Regions from separate parts of the Homo sapiens genome. Here region 2 is linked to region 1. The links come from fine-mapping of genetic effects on gene expression. Tissue or cell type: cerebellar hemisphere. Region 1 holds a variant in brackets; the other region holds the start of a gene. All regions are shown on one strand. Distances are from middle to middle.

The links. PIP is the estimated chance that this variant, and not a neighbour inherited with it, causes the effect.
Region 2: TNS3 starts here. The variant in region 1 is fine-mapped to the expression of TNS3 in cerebellar hemisphere (GTEx, PIP 0.98).

The regions. Positions count from the first base shown.
Region 1 is chr7:47,275,311-47,278,063 of GRCh38, forward strand. It overlaps TNS3 (tensin 3), which reads right to left. Exons shown (of 31, transcript NM_022748.12): 31 at 1-2,753. Among named protein-coding and RNA genes, the nearest start is that of SNORD151, 190 kb to the right of the region's middle. The variant C/G (reference allele first, on the strand shown) is at 1,537.
Region 2 is chr7:47,580,679-47,583,431 of GRCh38, forward strand. TNS3 (tensin 3) reads right to left here and starts at 1,433. Exons shown (of 31, transcript NM_022748.12): 1 at 1,373-1,433. RefSeq lists enhancers at 769-1,306, 1,307-1,844.

The DNA.
Region 1 (2,753 bases):
GACGTTACAAGGTATTTGATGCTGAGAATAAATGCACAGTGACTTTTAACATGGCTATAGCTTAACACTGGAGGAATACAACAATACGTTCTTTTACTGAGTAGTTAGTAGGACCCTGGCTATAACATGCGTTGGGCACAGTTCGTGAACTCTCCGCATTTACTCCCCAGGGCAGTACGTGCCTGTCCAGCGGGAGCCCTGGAGACAAAATGCCTGGAAACGTTCCTTTTCCTGTGGCCCTAGAGCCGGTGTCCACGGTGGGGGCTCTCTCACGGTTTCTGAGCCCACAGTACAATCTGTGATGACACACAGCTTGTTCTGTTTAATGCACATGTAACACAAAAGGAAGAAAGAAACTTCCTATACCAGCTCTTCAGAAATCGTGGAAACTTGCTTCCTTTGGTTCCTCAGAGGGAGCTATCTGCTTGGAGCAAATTCCCCGATGCCCTTGACCACGTTTACCTTGTGTAAAAATCACACCTGGCCAATGAGTTCAAAAAGCACGTTTGCAGGGCTTCCTGAATGCCGTCGAGGCATGGCTTCATGAGGGCCATCGCGGGCACCCCGATGTCTCTGTGATTCCCTGGCAGGCTGCGTTTCTCAATACTGAGACCCTAGTTTGCTCTGACTTCTAAATGAGCTCTCTCATCCTTCATCAGAAGGATAAGGAACCTGGCCTGCACTCTTTGGGTTAAACATGGGTAGAGACCGTCTCAGGATGAGGACCTCTTGGGGAAAGTACAAACCTCTGCTCCCTGTGGCCACATTCCTGCAGTGGATGAAAAACCGAGATGCTAGAGGCCTCTGCTAAAGACATCAGGGTCAACACATGAGGATCTGCTGAAAATGCCAGCACCTCCTGACAGTCATGCCACCGCAAGTTAGAGAAGGAGGTCCACAACGACCAAGGCAAACATTTGGCACAGAAATGAGGCACTTGGTTTGGTGCATCAATAGGAGCTAAAAAGTGGAATGGTCCACCTGCTTTCACACACGCATACACGCACGCATGCACACACGCACACACACACAACACCCACTGTGATTTGGCTGCTTCCAACTCTGCCTGTTTCTAAGTTTTCCTCGGCCCCTCACTTTAAAGCAGAGTTCACAAAGCACATTCCCAAACCCCAGCTCCCTGACAGGAGCTTGTGACACCAGTGTGGCCTAAGAATGGGGGATTTGACTTTTGAAAGCAGAGGAGGGAATTTCGGGCTGGATCGCAATCAGGACAGTCAGCATGCCTGCAGAGCACCTAGGCTGTGAGAGGATGGGGCCAAGGCCTTATTCTGATGTGGCCCAGCTCCATCTTTCACTCTGGGGATGTTCCAGGGTCACAAATTCCCCCAAACCTTTGACCACGAACAGATTCAAGCAGGAAAACCAGGGCATTGGAATGTTGAAATAAGCCTGAAATACACTTGATTCAGTGGCTTAGATGATGGCAAACAGTGGCACTCAAAAACAGCTTGTCAGTACCGGGGTTTCTTCTCTTTTTCCTCATCCTCCCTTCTGCTCACACATGCCACAACCACA[C/G]ATGGTCCCCAGCAGGAACCCCAAGGTGGCAAGGAGCAGCACAAAGAGGGCTGATAAATGCAGGCGAACTTCAGGTCGTGCAGCTTCAGGCCTGAAGATGATCGAAAAGCCCATGTGGGGGATGCTGAGCTTAAATCCAGGAGTTTTCCATCCCTCCTGGACTCTCTCCATCAGAAAAGAAGTCATCCACAATCGGGGAAAAACATTCCAATGAGTAAAACATCAGGGTAGGTTGCTTGAGGCAAAGCCACCTTTGGGCGGCACCGCATATGGGAGACCCACAGTCCACTGCACACTCTTTCAGTGGCCAGGGGCCTGCGGTGCATCCTACATAGGGACAAGCCTCACAAAATCACAGCTTGGCAGGCTGCAGCATTTGACACTGGTACAGTATAGCAATGGCAAATTATCATAAATAATTTGGCATAAGTAAAATATAAATTACATAGAAATAATATTTTTGTTCCTTCTTCTCATTTCTCCTCTCGGTCCTCACAGGCTCTCCCCAGCCCAGCTCGCCCAGCTCGCCCAGCTCGCCCAGCTCACCACAGGTGAGCAGGAGGCACAGAGCACTCACCATGGTGGGGTGGCATGGGGTCTCCAACGTGGCCAATTCTTCCCACCACCCCCATCCTCACAGCCCATCGCAAAGGCCCCTCGTTGTAGGCCCTGCTGTGTTCCAGAAGGGCCTGACTTGCACAAACCTTCGTCAAACATACGCCCCCTTCTCAGTTTCGTTAGCATCTCCATCTTGGGAAGACCGAGGTGAGGGAAACCCCCGGCCTCGGGTGCAGCTGGACAGAAGCGCCCATGCGGACGGGCGAAGCATGGCAGTCACTCGGCACCTCTGCCTCAAGGGCTGGGGATTCCTCATCCCCCGGAATGCTAGTGTGCCAGGGACATGGGGACCACCTCGTGTTCTGTGCTGTTTCCTTGCATGTCCCTTTCCCATGGGGACCCTAGGGGGTGGGGTGCACCCATGCCCAGCTTCTTCTACCCAAAAAGCATGTGGCTACAGAGATGTGTCAGATAAGTCACTTTCAGGAAAGGCCAATTCACGGTGATGTTGTTTGTTCTTGTTTTTGCAGAGCTGGAAGATCCTCTTTCCCCTCATGGGCCTGGAATGTCAGGTTTACTAGTTTGGTAAAAAGTGGGGGCCCCACCCTCACCCAACGGCTGTCTCCAGGGCTTCGAGAGGCATCGGTGGGTCCAGGGAG
Region 2 (2,753 bases), 310 kb after region 1:
TATAACCTCACAGGCCCCAAAGAGAGAAGAACCAGAATCACCAGAACAAGTAAACCTCATTCAAAAGGGAAAGCATGAAAGCAATTTAAAAAATTAATATGCACAGACCAAAGCCTCAAGAAAATCTAAAATGTCAAAGGGTTGGTTAGTTCAGAAGGGCCATGCAATATTAATACAATGAGTTCTGCATTCATACTTTTCAGTATATTTTCAGAGTCCTCCATGATCATGCATTCAAATAGTGAAAAAAATGGGGGGAAAGCCAACCCGGAAGATCAAAGTGTGTGAATGCGCCCCAAGGAAGCCTGGGGGCTTCCCAGGGGGTTGTGACCACCCTCAGTAGTGCTCTCTGCTGGCCCCACACCCTGATGGCGCTTTGAGTTTTTCAACCACGCTGGAGTTCGGGTCATCTGCTGACACTGTCTGGAGAATGCCTGAGGAACGCCTGAATCTCTTCCCGCCACAGACACTCAAATCACTCCAAGCAAAGGACCCGGGACTCACATGTCAGGCCGCTGCACAGCACCGACACAGAGACCCCTGGGCCGTCCGGGACCCTCCCTCCTCCTGCTTGTCAGCGACAGCTCCCGCGTGCCAGGAGGCACATGCCACACAGCTGGCCCCCAGCCTGGGACAGCACCCCCCACCCCAGAATATCCCCCCACCCCGAGGTCCCGTCCTTCAGGGAAAAAAAGGAAGCGCGTAAAGACCCCCTGCCTCCCACCCACCAAAGGGAAAGGGAAAGAGACGCACTGGAGAGCTTGCCTAGAAAAAGTAGGAGAAGGGTCTTGAGCCTGCCCATTGAAGCCCCTAGCTGCGCTCTCCACCTGGAGTCTCGAGACGGAGTCCTAGGGAGCAAAGTCCGCTCGGTCCCGACAGCGACTGCGACATAGCTGCTCCGGTCTCTGCCCTCAGTCCAGGGCGCCCGGGCGCCACGGGTCCCACTCGAGTGGTCCTGCGCCCCAGCCAGTCCCCAAACCCAGCCAGTCAGCGCCCCCGTCCCCGGACTCCGGCGAAGCTGGCCCGCGCCCCAGCCCCTGTCCTGGGACTCCTGCCGAGCCCCCGCCCCCCACGCGCCGCAAACCCCGTACCCGCGCGCACCAAACCCCTTGCCCGTGCGCCCCCAACCGGGTCCCCGCGCTCCCTAACCTGGGTTCTCCCGTGACCCCATCCCCGCGCCCTGAGCTCCCGTACCCCGCGCTCCCCGAACTCTGTCTCCGCGCTCCCCGAACTCAGTCCCCGCGCCCCAGCTCCAGATCTCTGTGCTCCCCAAGCCTCGTTCCTGCGCCCGGAGCGCGAAAGCCCGCGCCGGGCCCGAAACAAAGAGGACCGCGGCGCGTGGCCGCGTTTCCTCCTTCCCCGGCCCCAGTACCTGGGGGAGCCTGAGGCGCGGTCCGGCAGGGCGATGGCCGCAACGAGGCTGGGCTCCGAGTAGCGCGCGGGCGGGCCCGTCCTCCTGGCTGGCTGCCGGCGCCCGCGGCAGGGCCCCCTCGAGGCGGCGCGGGCAATCGCCACGGCCGGCCCCCGCGCCCGCGCCCCGAGCCTGGCGGGTCACCTGGCCTCATCACCCTAACAATGCAGCGCGCCTCCAGGCGCCCTTCACCGGGGTCCCCCGCCCTGCCGAGGTGCGCCCTGGGACCTCCCTTCGCTGGCCGCAGAGAGGACCTGGAATTATCAGACCCATTGAGCAGCCCAGGCTCCAAGTGGTCTGGAGGCTTGCAGGTTCCGCCGGGCCGGTGTTAGAGTACCTGGGGAGGCGGGTTCGGATCCTGGTTCCTGCACAACCAGTTCATTCTTTCATTCAGCGCCTGTGATTAAGGTGCTCTCCGGGAGCAAGACCTACCCTCCCTCCTGTAGCTCATAGCCTAGTGGGAGTCGCGCATACATAAAGGAGCACAGCCGCTCCGGAAAGCCTAGGGTGCCGTAGAAGCCCCTGAAATACCCAGCTAATGAAGGGAGGAGGTCAGGGAAGTCTTTAGAAGTCACATGACTTCTTAAAATGCGCCGGGACAAATGAGCAGAATTTAGGCAAGCCAGGGGAAACCAGAAAAACGATCCCGAGCAGAGAGATTCTCAGAGGAGGAAAGGCCTATAGGTTGTCCATCCTGACTGTCCATCCCTGAGATTCAGATGGCCCTGAACTCAGTCGCTTAGCCTCAGTTTCCCCATTTGTGAGATCGGGGGAATGGAAAAAGTTTGCAGAAATCAGAAGTGCTCTTCCTCCAGGGAGGTCACAAGAGAAATTTCATCAGCGGTTTGTCCTGTGGTCCTTTCCAGGAAAACATCCTCCCCGCCAGCCTCTCACAGAAGAGACCTAGATTTCATCTGCCACGTGGAGCAGGCGGTCTCAGAATCCCACCCGGAGCAGGGTCCAGGGCAAGTCTTGGAGGACAGTCACCAAGAACTGCTTTGGATTCGGGAACAGAGCTGCCTAACCCATCCGCAGCCCTGGGGTCCTGCCCTGTTCCTCTGGCCCCTTCAGGGCAGCGGGGGAAGCAGGGAAAACAGCCTGTCAGAGATGGCAGAGAAACCGAGCAAGAATAATTATCCTGGAAAAGACTTTCAGAAGTAACCACCAGAAACTTCGAGTCCCCAGATCCAAACAGCTGAGAATGTGGGGCCTGAGCCACGCTCTGACTCCACTCCCACCACATGAGGAGAAACAAGAGCTGCTTTTCTGGAAGACTTGAACAACCCCTGCTGTGCTCTGGAAGGTAGTGTCATTTCTCATCCCCAGACTGATCTGGGTATTT